2 separate regions of the Homo sapiens genome follow, and region 1 is linked to region 2. Evidence: fine-mapped expression QTL. A gene starts in region 2. The other region holds a variant in brackets. All regions are shown on one strand. Distances are between the middles of the regions.

What was found.
Region 1: its variant is fine-mapped to the expression of ZFYVE28 in whole blood (INTERVAL, PIP 0.99).

Annotation. Positions count from the first base shown.
Region 1 is chr4:2,327,547-2,338,875 of GRCh38, forward strand. It overlaps ZFYVE28 (zinc finger FYVE-type containing 28), which reads right to left. Exons shown (of 13, transcript NM_020972.3): 5 at 9,861-9,950; 6 at 8,159-8,248. Among named protein-coding and RNA genes, the nearest start is that of MXD4, 71 kb to the left of the region's middle. RefSeq lists enhancers at 3,368-3,867, 4,182-4,979, 4,980-5,777, 5,768-5,847, 5,778-6,575 and 2 more. The variant T/C (reference allele first, on the strand shown) is at 5,425.
Region 2 is chr4:2,413,584-2,424,912 of GRCh38, forward strand. It overlaps ZFYVE28 (zinc finger FYVE-type containing 28), which reads right to left and starts at 5,062. Exons shown (of 13, transcript NM_020972.3): 1 at 4,702-5,062. The coding sequence starts at 4,740. CFAP99 (cilia and flagella associated protein 99) reads left to right here and starts at 5,372. Exons shown (of 16, transcript NM_001193282.4): 1 at 5,372-5,510. RefSeq lists enhancers at 1-229, 2,664-3,222, 3,223-3,781, 9,172-9,762, 9,763-10,352 and 2 more and silencers at 4,787-4,946, 5,067-5,296, 5,537-5,586.

The DNA of each region.
Region 1 (11,329 bases), 86 kb before region 2:
AGGCACATTCTTTCTTTTTTTCTGTTTTACATTTTCACTCAGTGGTACCCTTGAAGGGATATATTCCTTCTACATCTAATTTGCTGAGTTTTTCATCATAAAATGATGTTGAATTTTATCAAATGCTTTTTCTGCATCTAATGAGATGATCATATGGTTTTTTTATTCTATTAATGTGATGTATCACAATTATTGATTTGTGTATATTGAACCATCCTTGCATTTCAGGGATAAAAACATTTCTCAAAAGAAGACATACAAATGACCAACATCACTAGTCATTAGAGAAAAGCAAACTAAAGCCACAGTGAGATATCATTTCTCATTTGTCTGAATATCTTTTATCAAGAAGATGAAAGATAAGTGTTACCAAGGATGTGGAGAAAAGGGAACCCTTGCACACCATTGGTAGGAATGTAAATTGGTACAGCCATTATGGAAAACAGTATAGAGGTTCCTCAAAAAAACTACAAATATAATTGCCATATGATCCAGCAATCCCACTTCTGGGTATTTACCCCAAACATCTGAAATCAGTTTGTTGAAGGGATGTCTGTAGTCTCATGTTCATTGCAGCATTATTCACAATAGCTAAGTTATGAAATCAACCTAAGCGTTTAACAGATGAATAAAGAAAATGTGGTATATATACACAATAGAATACTATTCAGCCTTAAAAACAAAAGAGATTCTGACATTTGTGAAAAATTGGATGGAATTTTAGAACATTATGCTAAGTGAAATAAGTAAGGACCAGAAAGACAAATACCATATGTTCTCACTTACTTGTGGAATCTCAAACAATTGAACTTATAGAATCAGAGAGCACAACAGTGGTTATAGAGGCTGGGGGTGTGGGGAATGGCCAAAGAGTATAAAATCTCAGACTAGAAGAATTTTTTTTCTTTTTTTGAGTTCTTTGCACATCATGGTGAATACAGTTAATAATAGAGTGCTGTACATTTCCAAATTGTAAGAGAGTAAATTTAAAATGATCTCATTCAAAAGATGTTAAATATTTGAGGTGATGGATATGTTAACCAGCTTGATTTAATTATTCCACACTGCATTCATAGATTATAACACAACTTTGCATGCTATAAATCTGCGCAATTATAAATTGCCAGTTTATCATTATAAAAAGAAAAAAAAATACCTTCACAGCAACATTCAGACTGGTATTTTACCAAATATCTGGGTAATGTGGCCTACCCAAGATGACACATGAAGTTAACCATCGCAGGGTCCAACTTTGTTCTTTTTTTTTTTTTTTTCCAACTTTGTTCTTTTGCATGTGGTTATCCAGTTGCTCCAGGAACATTCACTGAAGAGACTGTTCTTTCCTTATTGAATGATCTTGGCCCCCTTGTCAATAATCAGTTCACCATAGATGTTTGGGTTTATTTATGGCTTCTCAATTTTATTCCATTGGTCTATACATCTATCTTTATGCCAGTACCATAAGGTTTTGACTTGTAGTAAGTTTTGAAATCAGGACGTATGAATCTTCCAATTTTGTTTTTGTTTTTCAATATTGTTTTGGCTATTTAGGGCCCATTGCAGTTCCACATGAATTTTAGAACACCTTTTCCATTTCTGCAAAACAAAAAGGCCAATGGAGTTTCGACAGCAATTGCACAGAATCTGTAGATCACTTTATGGAGTATTGCCATTCTAACTATATTAAGTCTTCCCATCCATGAACATGGAATGTCTTTCTCTTTAATTATGTCTTTAATTTTTTCAGCAACGTTTTTTAGTTTTCAGCATCCATGCCTTTCACCTTCTTGATTAAATTTATTCCTAGGCATTTTACTCTTTTGAATGTTATCACACATTTCTTATTTAAAATAACAGCTAATTACATCCAATGGAATATTATTCAGCCTTAAAAAGGTAGGAAATTCTGACACATGCTACAACATGGGGGAAACTTGAAAACATTATGTGAAGTGAAATAAGACAGTCACAAAAGGGTAAATCCTATATATTAGGTTGGTGCAAAAGTAATTGCAATTTTTGCCATTAAAACCCTAAGAAAGGGTCAAAATGGCCAATTTTGTTATGTATATTTTACCACAATAAAGAAGAATGTTTATTGCTTTAATTTCTGTTTACAAAAGTTTTACCTATCAATGTTAAGAAACTCTGTAAAATAGAGACATACTATTTGATAACAGTTTTTGTGCTTAATACACTGGGGATGTTTTTGCATAGCATTAGGAGATTTTTCTCCATCATTATTTAAATGGCTACAGTATTGTTTTTAACCAATCCCTTAATTCTGGATATCCATCCCTTCTCAAATTTTTATGATTACAAGTAATACTTCGGGGATAATCTTTGTGGATATATATTTGTGCCCCCTCAGATCAATGCAACAAAATTCTGCAAAAGTCCACCACACTATGACATGACAGGCACTCAGGATGCATCCGTGAATAAGAGTTATAGTCTAGTGGGGGAGACACAAAAATAACAGAAATCCCATTTATATGAATAACCCAATAGCCAAATCTATAGAAACAGAAAATAGATTTGTGGTTCCCTAGGGTTAAGGGGCAGGATGAAGGATAATAGGGGGTGGAGGTGACCGCTCAGGAGTAAGAGACATCTTTGTGAGTAATGAAAATGTTATGAAATTTGTGGTGATGGCTGCACAATTCTGAATGTACCAAAAACGACTGTGCACTGTAGATGGGTGAGTCATAGGGTAATGAATTTTATCTCAGTAACATGGAAAAATAAATAACAGAGTAAGTCACGCAACCTGCTGGTGGGAGAGGGCTTGGGTGAGCGGTGCAGTGGTGGGGACATCGCAGAGGGAGGTACAGCAGGGAGTAGGGGACAGTGCAGAGGAGAGGACAGCACGGAAGAGGGGACATCATGGAGGGGACAGCACGGAGGAGGGAACATCATAAAGGAGGGGACAGCATGGAGGAGGGGACAGTGCAGAGGAGCACAGGGGAGAGGACATTGCAGAGGAAGGGACAGCATGGAGGAGGGGACAGCATGGAGAATGGGATAGCATGGAGAATGGGATAGCATAGAGGAGGGAACAGCATAGACAAGGGGACAGCATAGAGGAGGGGACAGTGTAGTGGAGGGGCCAGCACCATGGAGAGGACAGCATGGCCAAGAGGACACTGGAGCAGAGGGGACAGCGTGGAGGAGGAAACATCATGGAAAAGGGGACAGTGCGGGGGAGGGGACAGTGTGGCAGTAGGGATAGGACAGTCAAGGGGACCCTGAGCGAAGGGGACAGCATGGTGGAGACCCAGGGCAGCGGGTGCGTGGGGACTGGGGAGAGAGGACTGGTGTGGGCACGGTGCAGGCAGATCACGGTGGGAGCTCCGGCAAGGGTCTGAGCAGGGCAGAGATGACACCTTGTTTTGACACAGGTGGATGGGTGAGGGCCCCTGAAGAGGATCCGGCAACCATCCTGCAGGCCACGTGGGCGGTGGCTCCTGCACGTGTTCTGGGATGGGCTGGAAGGAGGGGGCTGGGGAGGAAGGCAGGGGTAGACGCTGGGATGGGCTGGAAGGAGGGGGCTGGGGAGGGAGGGAGGGGTAGATTCTGGGATGGGCTGGAAGGAGGGGCTGGGGAGGAAGGGAGGGAGGGGTAGAGGAGAGGGGCCTGGGTTCTGCACAGGTCCGGTCTGGGAAGCGTCGCACACACACAGCTGTGAGTGCAGACGGGCGAAGCCGCAGCGAGGCGGGCAGGCAGGTCTGTGCTGATGGGGACTGGGAAGTGACCACTGGGTCTAGAGGTTTTATTTCATTTCTTCCTTTAAAGGAACTGTTTTAAGGCCGGGGCTGGGCACGGTACCTCATGCCTGTAATCCTAGCACTTTAGGAGACCAAGGCAGGCAGATTGCTAGAGCCCGGGAACTCGAGACCAGCCTGGACAACACAGCAAGACCCTGTCTCTATTTTTTTTTTAATTAAAAAATAAAAATAAAAAGTTAAAAACAAAAAAAAGAAACTGTTTTAAGATAAATCCCCAAAAGTAAAACCAGTTTGTCAAAGAGTCTGAGCCTCGTGGAGACACTCTCCCCAGGACGCGTGTCTCAATCAGCAGGAGGGACTGACTGGATGCAGGTCTTAGGGAGGGGACAGGCTGAGGGGTGCAGGGCAAGTGGGGCCCCTCCCCTACGGCTCAGAGCAAGTCCCCACAGGGGTGACCCCCAGTTTTTGTCCTCACTGCCTGGTAAGGCCAGACCCCACCAGGCTGGGGACACCCTAAACAGGGGGAAGGGTGCCACCCAGCACTCCCTTCCACCTCCCCCTGCCAATCTGAAGGCCTCAGTTTACCACTGCCTCTGCCCCAGGCAGGCCTCCTCTGCCAGCCACAGAACTAGAGTTTTCTGCTTTCTTGTGTCACAGGTGAATAGCAGGCTCTGACCCTCGGGTGGGCTTGGTTCTGCCGCCTCCAGCTGTTGACCCCCAGCGGTGCCTTCGCCACTGGGAGCCCCTCAGAAGGGGACGGGAGCCTGGCCCGCAGCTCATGCTTGGTAAATGTGGCATCACTGTTCTGACACTGTGTGCTGGAGAAGGGACTGGGGCTCTCGGGCAGCAGCACAGTCACGGGCAGGAGCCACAGAGGAGCTCCACCCTCAGCTCCTGCCCCGCTCAGCACCCCTGCCTCCCCTCTGCTCTCAGTGTTCCCTGGGGGTCACCTGGGGGGTCCCAGGATGCCCACTTCACAGAGGCAGGATCCTGCGAGGGTGTGGGCCCAGGAATGCAGGCTAGAGGGGTCTTCATTTCTGCAGAAGTTCCTGCGGCCCCCTGGTCCTTGCTCGAGCCCTGGACTTGCCCCTGAGCATACACCACCTGCACCAACGTGCCCCTGCCTGCCACCTGCACAGCTCCCACCTCTGGGCCGGCTGCCCTGGGGAGCCTCTCCCTCACGCCTTCAGCTCCTGTCCACCCCATGGGGTCCCTGCACTGAGTCCCCCTTCCAGCATCCAGAACATTCCACAGCACTGTGGGTCAGCCCATCTGTCCATCTCCCTGGTACAAGCACAGGGCGAGGTATGCAGTAGGCACTCAATACTTGCTCACTGAATGAACACAGGAAGGAGCAGGTTCTGGGCCCCACCACGGGCAGCTGTGGCCTCTGCCTGTCCGGCTCAAAGCGGTCGCTGTGGATGACGAGGAACAAGACGGGATCCGCTGGTGGTGCAGGGCTGCAGGGCCCCAGTGAGCATCCCAGAGGGGCGGCCTTAGGAACAGCTGCCCACTCAGCACTCACCCGCTCAGCACTCACCCGCCCTGCTCGAGGCTCGCTGCACAGAGGGTTGCAGTGGCAGCCTGGTGCACCCCACGGTTCCTCGTATCCACAGCCTGGCTCTGTGGCTAGATGCCTGCCTCTGTGGGGGCTCACAGCTGGCCACCCCCCTGGACAGGCCTGCTCCCTGGACTC[T/C]GGCTTTGGGCTCTTATGCCCTCTCGCCCTTCCTCCCTCCTTCAATCCAAGCCCCCTTCACCTCCTGGGGGTCCCTCACTCCCTTTCCAGGCTCTCCCACTGTCCTGAGCCCGAGGGGACCCCACGCCAGTGCCTCCAGGAGGGGACCCGCGGGACAAAGCCTCTGCCAACAGAAGCTCCAGCCTCCCTCCCCAACCTCCCTCCCTTGGCCTCCCCCGCAGCACTGGCCTCCCCTGCTGCCCTTCCCTGACCCCCCCTGCTGCCCTTCCCTGACCCCCCACACTCCCCCACCTCCCTCCCCAAGCTGCCCCCCCACCTCCCTCCTCTGGCCTCCCCTACCCTGATCCCCCAGCCCCCGCCTCCCCTTGCCTCCCAGGATGAAAGCCTAGGACAGAAGGAGGAGCAGAGGTTTGGCCACCAGCAGGTGGACTGAGGTCGGCAAGCAGGACACAGATGATACTGGTTGGGGGAAGTGGCTGCTGTTCTGCGGTCGCCTGTACTCGGGCAAACACGGGCAGCAGACTCAGTGTGAAAGTCCCGAAACACAGTATGCCTGGGGTGCGGCCTGCGGGGAGGGTCACCTGGGGTCACCTGCACACTCCAGGCCCGACCTTTAAGAGGAAGTCCAGCCAGGGCTCACCGGCTCATTGACACGGGCATGAGTGGGCGGGTGGCTTGGTGCCACACCTCAAAGCACTCGCGGAGAACTTTTTACAAGGACAGCAGAGCTGTTCATTTGCTGTGAGTGCCCTTGGGACAAGGAGACACCTGTACCTGAGGCAAAGGCTCACAGCGCCCTGCGCCCTGGTGGAAACAAGGCCGGCTCGCAGGATCTTTGCTGTTCTGTTTTTTAAACAAAGAGAAGAATAAGGACCAAAACTGCCTGTCATTTTCTTCAAGTGAGTTTGGCCACAGAGAGACACTTGTCTAGAAAAGAAAAACAATGTCACCAAATCCTGTGGCCCATGGGAAGGGGCGCTCTGTGCTCTGGGGTGGCCTCTCCCCGCCAGGACACTTCCCTCCAAGCCACCTTGTCGCTGGCCACTGGGGACACCCTGCCCTCCAGCCCTGAGGTCTTCAGGTGAAAGGAAGTTCCCTGAGTCTAACGGCAGGAGGATTTCCGAGCCTCCCTCTGGCGCGATGTGAGGCTCACTCTCTCTGGTTTGCTAACTTTGTGAAAGACGCAACCTCTGCGAGGACACGGGAAGGACGGCGCAGGAAACAGGCCAGGCCCTGAGCTATTGGAGGGGACTCTGGGGAGCCAGGGCCCAGCAGATAGAGACCACGCTGGAGCCCTCCCGGAGGAGGTGGCACCAGGACCTAGGGGAGTGAGCGGCCTGGCCCAGGGGTGTCCAGACTGGCCCCGGCAGCAGCCCCCATTGCTCCCCACTCCAACAAGGGGTGTTCGGCGCATCCTGGGGTTAAGCACTTCTGTCCCCTGCAGGCCCCGCCGCTGGCCCTAGCCCACTGCACTGCCACCGCCCCGCGTGCTCCCACCTCTGCACCCCCATTTCCCACGGGAGGGGTATCCATGCTCAACCCCAGTGCACTGCCACGTGTGCCTGTGCCCCGGGGTCCCCTGGGGCTCCTCAGCATGGCCTCAGTGAGGTCTCTCCAGCCTGAGCCTGGACCAGTCGTGGCCTCTGTGCCCACCCCCCACTCCCCGACCACTTCACTGACATCCACATCTCCACGGGCATCTCTCTCAAGGGCTCCCCATCCCCTACTCTGCCCAGTCCCACACCTGCTGGCCGCTGCCCACTGGACCCTCCCCCTTCCCCCTCCCCTTCCCCCTCCCCACTTCCGCCTCCCCTCTTCCCCCTCCCCTCTTCCCCCTCCCCTCTTCCCCCTCCCCTCTTCCCCCTCCCCTCTTCCCCCTCCCCACTTCCGCCTCCCCCCCAGCTGCAAGCTCCACTAAGCTCTCTGTGGTCCACTCACTCCTCCGCCCCCGTGACCATCCGCCTGGCAGGGGCATGGGGAATCCCCGTCTGGAGTCAGGGTGTGGATGAGCAGCCTGACCCCTGGGCTCTAACCTTGGCCCCAGACAGCTCAGAGACGCTAAGCAGGTGACCCCGCGCATCCTGCCTCGGTGGATTTCAGGCCTGAGCTTCCATGTGCTGTGTTCACGTCCTTGAGCCCCACAGGACCCTACAGGCTGCCTTGAGTTCCCTGCTCTCCCAGACGGCCCCGCTGGCAGGAAAGGTTCCACACAGGTATTCCATCAGCCAGACCAACTGCCCCCACCTGCCCTTCAACCCAATGTGCTTCACCTCCCTGCCAGCCCCCAAATTATTCAAACAAGCCAATCACAGCCTCCTGAGGGACCCGGGGGGCAGCTCGTCCTCTTGTTACCACCAAGTCTGCCTCCCACAGCCCCTGCGTGGCCACTCTGTTCCGAGCATGACCCCTGTGTGACCCTCATGGTCTCCTGTGACTAATGAGCTCACCTGTGGATCTCACCTGTCCAGTGGCAGGTGGCAGGTGTTAGGCCACCTTGCCCTATCTAGGGTGACAGAGCCTCCCTCACCAGCAAGGTGAACAGGGGGCACTCAGGACACGTGGTCCCCTGGTCTGCTGAGGGCTGACAGCAGGCCTGCCTGTCACTGATCGGGACAGCTGAGCGGCCACCGTGAGGTGGAGACGCCATGGACCGGCACCCGCACGGGACCTGGCACCATCAGCCCTGCCCGTCCCGCAGGTTTCTGCAGAGGTCCTGGGCACAGGAGGCACTCACCACACGATGGCCAGCCTGGGGATGCTGAACATGAGGGCCGGCTCGTAGTCATCAATCATGTCCTGAGTCAGGTACCCGAAGTCCAGGGCCCTGTCCGGGGAGACGGACAGTGAGCAGCATGAGGGCTGGCCCACCACAGCCACAGGTTGGACCCCAGCAGGGACAGGCAGTGCGCTCAATCTGTACCTGCAGCCACGCGTGGTGGCCACGTCAAGAGGTGACACATGCCACCCCCAGTCCTCATATGTGCAAGGGGCTGGGACTGCAGGAAAAGGCCACACACTTCCCTAAATGCCCTGGCAGGTGGCTCCAGCTTGACCTTCCCATCTGCCAGTCCCCACCTCTGCCCCAGGAGGCAGGGGCAGGGAGGATGTGTGAGGACAGCTATGATGCCCAGCAAAGACAGTAAGGCAACCCAGAGGACGGCTCTGCTCAGCCAGGAGACCGAAACAACTCCGGTGTCAAGAATGAACACGGAACAAAAATACTGCCCCAAACAATTCAACACTTCCCTGAGAAACCAGCTTCCTTTCTCCTCCCCGGGGCTTGTGGAGGGCTTTTCCTGCACCTCGTGAGCAGGCCTGCTGGCATCGTGACTTTTCAAAATAAAAGGAATTTCCCGTCATCTTATTTTCTGATAATTTGAAATATCTCTCAAAGCACAAAGAGTAAAAATTTGCTTTTTAAAAATAACAAACATACAATGTGATAATAGTCAATTTCAAATCTTCCAAACACCATAGTACCACTTGAACAAGAGAAACATCAAGGTTACATCTTAACCCCAAAGTCCATTGAGAAAACCAGACTCCAAATTACTGTACAAAGCCTGATAAGAATATTGATGGCTTCCCCCTGCCCCCCCCACTCCCTAAAAAAGAAACACTTGTTCAACAGACTTAAAACTCAGCAAAAACTCATTCCTGGACTGGGGAGGTGGGGAGTGAGGATTGAGGAGTGAGGATGTGAGGATTGAGGAGGTGAGGAGTGAGAATGTGAGAAATAAGGAGCTAAGGAGTAAGGAGGTGAGGAGTAAGGAGGTGAGGAATGATGAGGTGAGGAGTGAGGAGGTGAGGAGGTGAGGAGTGAGGAGATGAGGAGGTGAGGAGGTGTGGATTGAGGAGGTGAGGAGTGAGGAGGTGAGGAGTGAGAAGGTGAGGAGGGAGGAGGTGAAGAGTGAGGAGGTGAGGTGAGGAGTTAGGAGGTGGGGAAGTGAGGAGGTGAGTGAGGAGGTGAGGAGTGAGGGGGTGAGGAGTTAGGTGGTGAGGAGTGAGGAGGTGAGGAGTTAGGAGGTGGGGAAGTGAGGAGGTGAGGAGTGAGGACATGAGGAGTGAGTAGGTGAGGAGTGAGGGGGTGAGGAAGGTGACAAGGTTTGGACGTCCAATCCATCATGCCAGAGCCTTCCAGCTTTTGTCCTCTGACAGTGACTTCACCTGCAGGATCTGACCTTCTGGCAGACAGAAAAGCGACCGTGGGGCGGTGGAAGGGGGCCGGGCAGAGGTAAAGGCAGGGGTGGCCTCTACCCTCTGCCCACCTGTGAGGAGAAGCCGGATGTAGTGTGGGAAGACACGTCTGGTGCCTTCCATCTGGGGCACTCCCGAGACACAGCAGGTTCCCCCAGAGCTGCCCTCTGCCCCGGGCCTGGAGTGAGGCAGGGACTCCCCAGATGCTGCCCCCAGCCCCTAAGCATCCCTGTGCTCACCTCTCCACCGTCTCGCAGAAGAGCACGATGACCTCCTGCTGCACGTAGTACTCCCTGGGGGACTTCACAGGCACCATGGCCGAGACGTAGCTGCAAACACATGGAGACCTGTGAGGCCGCACCTGGGCTGTGGCGGGGCCCCTCCAAAACAGAGTGGGGGGCATCTTCAATTAAAGCTGCAATGCTGGGCAAGGTGGGGGCGGGGGGCCTCACGCCTGTAATCCCAGCACGTTGGGAGTCTGAGGTGGGAGGATGGCTTGAGCCCAGGAGTTCGAGGCACCACAGCAAGACCTCATCTCTACAAAAAATAAAAAAGTCGGGTGTGGTGGTGGCAGGCACCTACAGTCTCTGCTACTTGGGAGGCTGAGGTGGGAGGATCACTTGTGCCCAGGAGTTGGAGGCTGCAGTGAATGGTGATGGTGCCACTGCATTCCAGGCTGGGTGACAAAGCAAGACCTTTTCTCTTAAAATACACACACACACCCTACACCACCATCCCATTTCGGCAGTTTCATAGTACACAGCTCCTGCCAGCCAGGCCTACCCCAGGCCTTCCCTTGAAACCCCAGCCCTGCCCATGCGGGACAGTTGTGCCAGCTCCCAGGGCTCACCCTGGAGCCTGACCACCCTGGACCCAGTGCTGCCCATGTGCGGGACCATCCCCCACCTTGGCACCAGCCTTAAGGGGCGAGAGAGAAACGAATGAACACGTGCACGGGTGGGTGAACAACCCGCAGCCCCACATGAACCTCCGCACGTGGACCTCCACAGCCACGGAAGCCAGCCCAGGCTGGGCACAGCGGCTTGCAGGAGGCCTGCCAGTGGCTCTGAGACGTGAAGGCTTGTCCAACCCTTCCCCAGATGAGAGCACTTTCTTTCCTTCTAAACCACCAACTCTAGGCCAGGTGCAGTAGCTCACGCCTGTAATCCCAGCACTTTGGGAGGCCAAGGCCAGCAGCAGATCACTTGAGGTCAGGCATTTGAGACCAGGCTGGCCAACATGGTAAAACCCTGTATCTACTGAAAACACAAAAAAATGAGCCAGGCGTGGTGGTGGTCACCTGTAATCCCAGCTACTTGGGAGGCCGAGGCAGGAGAATGGCTTGAACTCAGGAGGTGGAGGTCGCGGTGAGCTGAGATCGTGCCACTGCACTCCAGCCTGGGCAACAGAGTGAGACTCCGTCTCAGAAAATAAATAAATAAATAAATAAATCACTAACTCTAATTTTTTCTTATGGAAGCTGATTTAGAAAATTTGGGGAAGACAAGAAAATAAAACTCGACTGTCCGTGCTCTTGCTTCCTGCAGAGGACTGCCCTTAATGCATTGGTTGATCTCCTAGGGGCCAGTAGATTACAAGATGAAAAACTTATTAACTGAACCTCTGCGGACACCATCTGCCTCCGTGTTTTGTTTGTTGTGGTTGTTGTTGTTTTGAGATGCAGTCTCGCTCTCTCGCCCAGGCTGGA
Region 2 (11,329 bases):
ACACTGGCTTTCCAGCAGCTCACCTCAGAGAGAAACGTGCCAGGCCAAGGACAACCCCCTGCCACAGCTGGGCACTTGGAGTTTATCAGCTGAAAACGAATTCATCAGTAGCCTGGCTAGAAGTTATCACTCAAATCCCAAGTCCCTGGAACAGGGTCTGTGCTTGGCATGGGGCATGGACGCAGTGCTGTAGGGACAGCCATTCGTTTCCCAGGTGACGCAAAGCAGGGAAGTCAAGGCACATGCCAGTGACTGCCCTCTCATAGGCCCCACTCGTGCCAGGCCCCAGTGTCCACCAAGACCCCTCCCACAGCCTTCCAAGCCCCAGCTGTATACTTCTGGGGGATCTCTGTCATCGCCCCTCACCCTCAGCCACCAGTGGGGAGCCCCAAAAGGAGGACTGGGCTGCGCCTCATCTCTGCACTTCGGGACCAAACAGATATATCCAGACCTTGCCCCACCCCCCACTCTGGGGCCCGCCCCCATCTGCCACTTCGTTTCCAGGGTGCCGCCCCTCTCAACCAGGTGGCCAAGGTACAGAGTGCTGGCCACCAATGGGCAGCTCTCTTCAAGGGCCCATGACCAAGTGGGCTGGAACCCCGAAAACCCTCAGGTGACTGAGGCTGGGTTAACAAGAGCCGAAGGGCAGGAAGTCCCATACTCAGTACTGCTCAGTCCTGGCAGGTTCCCACAAAACATGCCAGTGGGGTTGGCACCCAGGCAGACTTTACCAAACCCAAAGGGGTCTTCTTTCATAAAGCACACACACCCAGCAAGTCACTCAGGCTTCTCTTGGCAAAGGCCATGTCATCGCTAATCTGGGCCTGGAATGTTTACAGGAAGTTGCCAAATACACATCACTCAGTAAGGCAGATTTATAAGGAATGTTCTCCTACAAAGCGGGGGGACAAGAAAGGTTAATAGCCCCCACTCTGAAAACGGTCTGGGGGTGCAGACAAGCGAGCTCTTCTCGGAGTGCAAGGTTGAGCATGGTAACCAGCCACATGGGAACTACCCCATCCACCCAGCCAGCATAACCCACTGAGGGTCAATTCCTCCTCAAAGATGGAAAACACAAATTCATCCTGAGTGATATTAATATGCTCTTTGGTGATGGCCAGGAAATCTCTCCCAGGTCCAGGTAAGTGTCCAGGTCCCTCTCCCCCATGCCGGGAATTCTCACCTCCTAGTGACCAGGAACTTCCAGCCAGGTCAATCAATAGAAAGTCATAACCAAGCAAGAAACACAGCACTGAGACTTTTGTTTCAGATGAAGACACCAACCATGCCAAAATGGTTTGCCTTTCTAAAGCATAAACTCTCTTGAAAAGACTTTAAAGAAAGGCAAGAAAGTATTTCACCAACATCAATAAAGCAGGACAAGCTGACAGGTTTTCCTGCACCGTCTCTTCCTGGGAGTGTTCAAAGTCAGGATAATACTTACAAGATCTGAACACTTTATACCAAGAAAAATCATATTGGTGTTTAAAAGACTGATTAAGAAAGTGAATAGAAATATAATTTGCAAATGTCATTTTAATGTTAAACTTTTGTATTATTCATCAGGCATTCTTTTACTCAACTTAGGTAGCTAACGTAGTAGCTAATTTTTATTCAGATATCAAAATGTATGTCACACAGGAATATTTTTCAGCATTTCCAATTGCTTTTTATAACTATAAGAACAGTGAATAATATTTTCATTTCAGAATATTTTCCACCATATTGTGATGAACAAGAAGCTCAGTGCTGGCCAAGCACAGTGGCTCACACCTGTAATCCCAGTGCTTCGGGAGGCTGAGGCAGGAGGATTGCTTGAGGCCAGGAATTTGAGTCCAGCCGGGGCAACATAGTGAGACCCTGTCTCTACACACACACACACACACACACACACACTTAAAAATTTATAAAAAGAAGCTCGCTGTGCAGTTTTAAACCAAAGCAGGAATTCAATTAAAAATTCAGTTTGAATTGTACATCTATCTAAATACAAAGTGGGAAAAAAATTCCTGACTGCAGGCAACAGTCTCCCCCAGACACATCCTCCCACAGCTAATGTTTAACACTTCAACTCTTCCAGGCCCAGAATCTTCCCAGGACTGACTTTGTGCTTATTTGTGCCAAAATGTGTTAAATTAGACAGGAAGGGGAAGCATAAAATTCAATTCATAATCCAAGGCAAGAATCTGAGCTTTGGTTTGAAAAATGAAAAGCTATGGAGTGACATAACATACTCCGACCCTTCAAACAATCAAGATATTTAACTCCAAAGACATTTCTCAAATAAGAGACAGCCCAAGTTCAGACTGCCCACAGGGCACCAGCTCCCAGAAAAATGCTATGGCCAGAGACAGATCTGAAATGGAGATACGTCTCAAGTCCAGAGCTCTGGAGCTACTACCAGACAGCATGCCAGGAGAAGACAACGAGAAAAAGGAGAGATCCACATCAATCCTGTTCCATCCCTTCTCCGGAGGCACACAGCTCTGGGCTGATCCCTGGGATCAGCTGATTCACTGGCTGTGCCCTCTTGGTGCCCGCCGCCTGCCTGGAAAGGCAGCTGCCTGCTGAAGAGGAAAAGTTGGGAACGCAATTCCTAATTCTCAGGACAACGTCTAGTACCATGTTCTACCTTTAACCTGTCTTCCCTAAACGGAAACAGACAAGGCCATCCTGAAATTACTCAGCTACTCATGAAACAGAGTCTACAATTATTTTTCCTTCCTTTTCAACACGATTAGAAGGGTGATCCCCCAAATGCGGCCTCTTCCACAGCCACGTCCGGAGGGGCATCCCCTAGTGTCCCAGCAAGTGCCTTCAGCGACACCAGAATGTTAGTTAAGACCTAAGACACATTTCTCCAGCTGCCTCCCGCCATTTGTCACAGAAAATAATGCTGCTGCACGCCCCCAAAACGCCGTTTTACAAGCAGACTTGGTTTTCAGTAACTGGTGAGGAAAAGTCACTGGAACCAAACACCATTCATACAGCTATCCAGAGCGGAGGCCACCGCCCTACCCCGGCAGAGGCACATGGGGGCAGCAGGCAGGACCGAGAGGGGCTCGAAGGCGCCGCAGGAGGAGAGGCTGGGCGCAGACGGCTCGGCCCCAAACCACACCCAGCGCCAGGAAACGCAAGGCTCGGGACGAACCCTTAAGAAGTCGCTGCTAGGGACAGGGAGGTTGGGAGCAGGGAGTGACGCCACAGGAACCCTGAATCCCCCCGAGTCCCCTCCCAATCAAGCCAAGGCCGAGCAAGGGGCGCCCCATGTACCGTAAGCCCTCAACCCAACACTCCGGCAACGACAAACAGAATTCCCCGACCTCAAAGGCCGTGAAGCACGCGCCCTTCGGGGCCCTGAGTGAGCCCTCAAACCTCCGTGCCGATCTTCCAAACCCACCTCCCGCCTTCCTGGAATGGGCGCACGCGAGGCACGGATTTCAGGAAACCTCTGCCGTGACAGCTCACCCACGGTGGAGGCGGAGGCCTGGGACGCTGGACGGAGAAAGGCGGCCAGTGGAGGGAGGAGGGGTAGGTCGGCAACGCGGTGGCCTCGGACGTCCGAGCTGCCCGGACGAAGCGCTGGCCCCACTCCCGCCCTTGGTCGCCGCGGTGACCCCACCCGAGCCGTGACCTCCCCCAAGATCTCAGGGCCCGGGCCTCCCCGCTGCGCCGGCCCCAGGGTGCCACCCTCGGACGCCCAGATGCGCCCTGGACCCTGCGCCGGGATCCTGAACACCGCCGCGCCTTCATCCCGCGCCGAGCGCGCCCGGCCCTGCTCCGGCTGCAGCGGGCACGAGCCCCAGGCGGGCGGCGGGGACGCAGCGCCCGCAGTGCGACTGGCGCAGCCGCTGAGGCACGGGGCGCGCCGCCCGGACCCCGACCCCGCGGCGCTAGGAGAGGCGCGGGCGCCGGCTGGAGAGCCGCACCTCCCGCCCCGCCGAGGCTGCTGGCCACGGGCGCGCTCGCCCCAAGGGCCGGGCGGAGGACCTGTCCCGGATTCCAGAGGACGTGGGTGGGGAAGGGACAAGGATAGGGACAAGGGAGGGGACGCGAACTGGGCCGAGGTGTGGGTCAGTCCTGGTTCGGGAAGGGAGGCCGTTGGCAGGGCCATCAGGATCCTCTCTGGACATGGAAGGACGGGTCTGCCCTGGACCCAGGGATTGGGAAATGTGGGTTCTCTCAGAACCTGGGGAAGTGGGGAGAGGGTCTGTTCTGGAGTGCGGAGGGAGATCTATTCCGGGCCCAGGACAATGGGGGTGGGGGCAGGACGGGAATGAGGGGGCATTCCTGGTGCAGGGAGGGGAGACGGAGAAGTAGTAGGGGGTCTGCTCCGGGCCCGCGGGCTGGGGACCACGAAGTGTAGGAGGGCACCGTCCAGGACCGGGATGAGGAGGGAGAGGGGCCCGTTGTGGCCCTGGATAGAGGGGGAGGGAAAGTGCGCCCCGGCCCGAGAGGAGGAGCAGGAGGGTCAGTCCTGGACCCGGGCTTAGGAAGCCGGGAGGGAGGTTCGGATCCGCCTCAGAGACAGGGCGATGAAGATCTGTCCAAGTCTTGGAGTGGAGGGAAGGATGTCGGCGGTGGGGGAAGAGGCCGGCCACGGACAGGGAAAGGGAGTCCGTCTTGTAGGGCGGACGGGCGGTCCTGGGGAAGGGAGAGGCCGCGACGCGGGGGGCGTCCGGCCCGAGCGGGGCCGCTCACCTTGGGTTTGTAGAGCCACTTTCGGAACCTGTTCATCATCGCCGCGCCGGCCCTGGCCGGACTCCGGGCGGCCCTCGCCCTCCGCAGCGCTGCGCCCGGGCCCGGCTGAGGCGCGGGGCGGACGCGGAGGCACGGCCGGAGCCCCCGCGCTGTCGCAGGGAGGCTGGCTAGCGAAGCCCGGAGCGCCGAGCGGGCGGCGGGCAGGTGCGCGGGGCAGGTGCGCGGCCCTGAGTATGCTCTGCAAGCGGCGCGCCGGGCAGACCTCAGACCCGGGAGTGGGCGCTCGGGCGCACGGACAGACGCGGGCACGGGGGCGCGCGGCTCCTCGCTGCTCACTGACACCCAGCGCTCCGCTGGTCACGGCCGCCCCGCGCCGCACATGCGCCTAGGGCGCCGCGAGCCCCGGGCCCACCGCGCGCTGCGGGCGGGGCGGGCGGGGCGGAGGCGGCCCAATCCCTGCGCGGGCGCCGCACCCCGCCCGAGGCGCGCTCCCTGCCGGCGGGGCGACCCGCCGCGCCCGGGTATCCAAGAAACTACAAGTCCCGAAAGGCATGGCGGGGAGGTGGCGCCCAGGGCTTGGCGTCCCGGGCCGCGCCGCGGCGCTGTGTATTGTGGGAGTTGTAGTCCACCCGATGGCGGCGGAGCGTGCCGCCGGTTGCTAGGTGACGACGCCAAACAGCCGCGGCGTCCTGCCTACCGGGAGCTGACGGACGACGACTGCCAACACCTTAGCCCCAGCTGGCCCAGGAAACTGCTGCGGTGGCAGGTGGCGGCGGCAGGAGGGCTCGGCTGCCCCGAGCGCCCGCCAGGTACGGGGGCGGGACAGGTGCGGGGCGACGCGCCGCCGATTTTCATGACCTGCCGGCCGGTTCCCTCTCGCTCGCTGCTCATCTTGCTTCTCCCAAACACCTCTTCTGTCTTCTTCCCAGCTCCCCGATGAAAGTGAACGGTGCCTCTTTTTTTTTTTTTAAATCACCACTATCAGCGGTGCGTTCTAAAAAGATACTCTTCCGCCCTCGCTACTCCCCCCAGTGGTGCCCTAATTTGTACCTTAAAACGCTCACCTCAATCTGAGTACCTGCTATGTGTCAAGCAGAGAGCTAAAAACCCACACGTGGCCTCACTTAAACTTCCCATTGACAGCCAGAGAAGCAGGCACAACGAGGCCGGCGTGCCCTGGCTGTGGGGGTTGCATCCAGATCACGGCGGATCTGGGTCGGCCTGACCCCACAGCGCTGCACTTTTCCCTGCCGCACCACCACCACGTCTCTGGCTTGTTGTGAAACGTGCAGATGTAAGACACAGGAGATGGAAGTCATGCCCCCCTCGGTTCAGAATTGAGAAGTCTGACCTGTTCCTGCTTGTCCTCACTGGCCAGTGCCAGGTGCTCAGAAAGGTCCGTGGGCTCCATGACCACTTTATTCCAACAGACGCGATGTGAGCCTAGGCGCGCTGGCATCTAAGATTTCTCTTAGTTGGGGGTAGGGTCCATGTTTATTTTTGAGTAACTGATTGATTTTCCCTACTCTCCTCTTCCTACCACCCAGTCGACCCTCTGAAGGGCAAAACCCCTCTGGAGTTTCCCCTTATCTCCAATTCCTTCCCACTTGTTCTTTCTGGAAACTACTCCCATCAGATTTTCACCCAACCACTCCTCTGAAGCTCTTTATCAAAGTCATCCTTGACCTTGATGTTGCAAAATCCGATGATCGGGGTCAGCGCTCATCTCTTCCTTGAACTGTCACTACCACGTGACCCAGCCGACTGTGCCCTCTCCGTGACACAGCATCCTCACTTGGCTGAAACAGATCCCACTGTCCACTTCTCCTCCTCGCTCCTGGCCACTCCTGCTTGATCTCCTTGGCTGGATGCCTCCCCTGCTCACCGACCTCTCAACACTGGAGACCCTGGACTCAGTCCTTGGAACCTACTCTATCCACTCCCTCCCTGGGGGATTTCCTACAGTTACATGGTTTTATAAACAACCATTTTCTCCCAAACTTCTCAAAACCTATATCTCTAGCCTCAACCCTGAAACTCCAGACCTGTTTACCTGTTCTTCACCATTTGGACGCCTAACAGATCCTCTCAAATTTAACGTGTCCCAAACCACACTCTCAGTCTTCCCCCATAAAACCTGCTGCTCCCAAAGCCATCATTTCTTCAGCACAGGATCTTGGGGTAGACACTTGATGGGCTTGTCCACTGAGTGAATGGCTGTTCTCTGTGGGTCTATCCTTGGCCAACTCCAAGGCCTGGAGCAGTTGTATCTGCTCAGAGGCTCCCTTCCTGTGTTTTATAGTTTGAAATTGTGCATGGGATGAAGGCTGAACTTGGGGAAGTGGGGTATCAGTTAGGTTTAGCTGCATGTATTGAAAAATCCCAACATCACAGTGGCCTAAACAAGAATATTACTCATATTTTTATAAAAGAGGTCCATGGAGAGGCAATCGTGGTTGGTATGGCAGCCCTAAAGTCCTCAAGGATCAGCTTTTCTATCTGCCATTCACGTTTCTTCATGATCCAGGATGGCTGCCCACATTCCTGCCATCACCTCCTCGGCCCAGGAACCAGCTGCAAAAGAGAAGATGGATATGCCTCTCTCGTTCAGGGAGACTTTCCAGAAGTCTCACACCTTTCCACTTCTTGAAGGTGGTGGGAGAACTTAGCCACACAACCATGCCCCAGCTGCCAGGGAGGCTGGGAAATGCCATCTTTCAATTGGGCAGCAGTAGACCCAGCTAAAAATCAGAGTTTTCTTATTTGGGAGGAAAGGGGTAGTGGAGATTGAAAAGCAACTAGCAAAAGCTGCCACGTGGGGTTGTGCTTTAAGCACAAGCCATAGGGGCATGACTTGGTAGCAACCCTTAGGAGACTGGCTTTAATCGGGAGAAAAGACTATATTTTAATTAACATACATTTGAGATCTTAGGTAAATGAGTTATCTCCTAGTGGTTGAGAGTGTTGAGCTGTTTTGTGTCTGATGGAATTTAAACCTCCTCATATAATCTCATTTGTGTCTATAAAATATTTCCTAAGGAAAGAGAAGCTTTAGTCTGCCCACCCTTTTTTTTTTTTTTTTTTTTTTGAGATGGCGTCTCGCTCTGTCGCCCAGGCTGGAGTGCAGAGGCACGATCTCAGCTCACTGCGACCTCTGCCTCCCGGGTTCAAGCAATTCTCTGCCTCAGCCTCCCAAGTAGCTGGTATTACAGGCACCTGCCACCACGCCTGGCTAATTTTTGTATTTTTAGTAGAGATGGGTTTTCACCATGTTGACTGGTCTGGAACTCCTGATCTCAAGTGATCTGCCCGCCTTGGCTTCCCAAAGTGCTGGGATTACAGGCATGAGCCACCGCGCCCAGCCTAGTCCAGCCCACCTTTAAAGTTGCCTTAAATATAAGATAGTCAAGTCCTGATCAATGGAGTTAAAATCAATATGAGAAAAAAATCTTTAAACTTGAGAATTAAATCCCACTTCCCACATAGATGGTACTTCACTATTAAAGCTGAACTTTGGAATGCTCAGGTGGGAGGATCGCTTCAGGCCAGGAGTTCAAGACCAGCCTGGGCAACATAGTAAGACCCCTGTCTCTACAAAAAAAAAAAAAAAATTAAGCACAAAATTAGTCGGGCGTGGTAGTACATGCCTAGAGTCCCAGCTACCCCGGAGGCTGAGGCAGGAGGATCACTTGAGCTGCAGTGAGTTATCATCGAGCCACTGCACTCCAGCCTGGGTGACAGAGTGAGACCCTAAATCAGGAAAAAAATAAAATCAGGCTGAGAATTTGAGAATGCATGAATGTAGCTGAGATGCTGAAAGCAGGCGTCACAGTTGGATGAATTTTAGTACCTATTTCCTCCCCAAAGAGGTGATTGTTTTGATGAAGTTCCTAGGCTAATTTCAGTGGGATTCAGAATTCAAGCATCTCTTTTCCTTACATTCACCTTCACATACACCTGCTCTGCGCCAGATTCAGGGGTGCAGAGGCCCCGCCCCAGGGACCTTCAGGCCGGACAGTGAACCAGGGTTCCAGGGGCAGGGCAGGACAATTTGAGTCAGGCTGGACTCCAAAGGAGCTCTTCACCCCCGTCCCCATCTTCAACTTGGTTTGTCCATTTATTCCTTCCAGTTCATTCCTACCAGGTCCGCCCTGGATTGGGGGGCGGGCTTGGCATGGCCCTCTTCCTCCTCCTCGATTTGCATCACCAAAGGGTACCTAGGATCATCCTTTCTCCAGAATGCTCCAGCTCCAGGACAGGGGGAGACGGCAGGGAAACTGTTCCACCTTGGCAGCAGCTCCCACCACACACATGCAGACCATCCACTCTCACCGCCCCCACCAGGCGCAAGAAGGGGCCCTTTTCCTGGGTGTATACCCTGTTCCTCCAGGCAGAGCTGTATCCAGAGCAGATTCAAAAAGGCTGGGGCAAGGGGACCCCATCCCAGGGCAGCCTGACCCACAACGTGACGTGGAGGCAGGGCAAGAAAACTCACTCTTTAACATTGTTTCTCTAGAAGTAGACCTTTACATTTATTTATTAGACAGGATCTCAATGTGTCACCCAGCCTAGAGTGTGGTAGCACAGACATAGCCCAAAGCACCTTCAACCTCCTGGGCTCAAGGGATCCTCCCACCTCAGCCCCCCAAGGAGCTAGGACTACAGGCGTGCCACCACACCTGAGTCATTCTTTAATTTTTTTGTAGAGAAGTCCCCAGTTACGCTGTGGAGTTTTAAAAAACGTCTCAGTGTGGCTGACCCTGGCGAAGATGGGGAGTGGGATTTGTGAGCTGTGAGCTCACTGCCTACAGGGAGCCCCCACTGCTCTCAGCAATGCCTGGAGTGAAAGCCACAAGTCCCCCCTCCCCAAAGAGCAATGCCCCAGAAAAGTGCTTCCTGCTGCCAGCAGCCTATTGCCCCCTGGCTGTGTTATGGCTGCCTGGATCCACCTACCCACCAGGGTTGGCCACCACGCCCACACTGCACCACACCGCACCGCACCCCTGCCATACTGGTGGCCTGGCCTGCTGGGACCCTCCCGAGGAGAGGGGCTGAATTCAGAGAGAGCAGGGACTTAGGGTGAGCCTGTCACAAGCTTAAGGCCCTGCCCTGAGTATTCCTGCCTTGGCAGGCTCAGGGGAGGGTGCTCAGTGGGCCTCCTGGGCCTTTCTGCTCACAGCTGTTGAAATCCCCACGCCAGAGACTCAGCTAGAGGGGATCAGAGGAGAGTGAAAGGACCCTGAGGCTGGGGTGGGGTGTGGGTGGTCTCTCTTCCATGGCCCAGCCTTCCAAGAAGCAAAGGTTTCCCGCAGGATGGGCTGAGGCAGCTTAGGTGGCAGGTCCCCAGGGGCAGGCCATGAAGGGGGTGGGAACCCTCAGAGGGTCTGGGCAGCCTCACCCACAAACCTCTCTCATCTTGCCCAGGCAAGCCTGGCTGCAGCATCTAGATTTCAGCATCTGTGGATTTGCGGGTTTAATGGCTTCTGATCTGGTGTTCTCCAAGCCAGCAGCATCACTGTCTCTTCCCTTGCCCCGAATCATCAGGACCGCACTGGCGCAGGAACGCACCTCCAGGCAGCCTTGCTGGTCTCCAGACATGGGGTGGGGGGAGGGGGACCCAGCCGGGGCCCAGGGCAGGCTCCCGGGCAGTGACGGTCCTGGCTGTGCCAGAGGCTCATGCTCGCTTTGTTCTGGGAGGCCTGGTCTCCAGGGCCTGTTTTCAGCACCAGGGCTTCAAGCCAGATTTCCAAATTCCAAGCGGCCTTTCTTCTGGCCTCCTTAGAGAGAGGCTCCTGCTGGCCTCTGTGTCCATGCACAGCCAGGCTGGTCCCTAAAGCAGCCCCTAAAAGGACAGCCTGGCGTGGTGGCTCACGCCTGTAATCCCAGCACTTTGGGAGGCTGAGGCAGGCAGATCACCTGAGGTCAGGAGTTTGAGACCAGCCTGGCCAACATGGCGAAATCCTGTCTCTCCTAAAAAAATACAAAAATTAGCCACATGGTGGCTATACAAAAATACAAAAAATAGCCACATGGTGGTGGGTGCCTGTAATCCCAGCTACTCAGGAGGCTAAGGCAGGAGAGTCGCTTGAATCTGGGAGATGGAGGTTGCAGTGAGCCAAGAGCACGCCATTGCACTCCAGCCTGGGCAACAAGAGCAAAACTCCATCTCAAAAAAAGAAAAAAAAAGAACAGCCCATGTCAGGCCTCAGGTGGTGCAGCCAGCAGGGAGGTGGGGACACAGGCCCTGGGCTGATGCCATCCCTAGCCAGGTCCAGCGTCACAGCCTCTTTCCCTAACTGTGCAGCTAAACCCACTCACAGAACATGCCAGGTGCTCCTCCTGGAGACACCCCCGGGAGCCCCTGCCCTCCTGCTCTGTCCTTGTCCTGCCAGCCAGTGTCACCTTGGGGCTACCTGCATCGCAGCCTGGAAATTCCCCACAACGACAGTCACTTGGGTTCAGCCCCTGCTTCCCAGGGCACCCCCAGCCGAGACTCCTCTGCATCCCTGACTCTTCCTGCACTGAACGTGTTCGGGGCGTCCCTGGCTCTGAAATATCATGACTCATTCCCTGTGCTAAGCTGCCAGTGGGCCTTGTCCGTCCAGAAGACCGCATCCTTCAGTTCTAG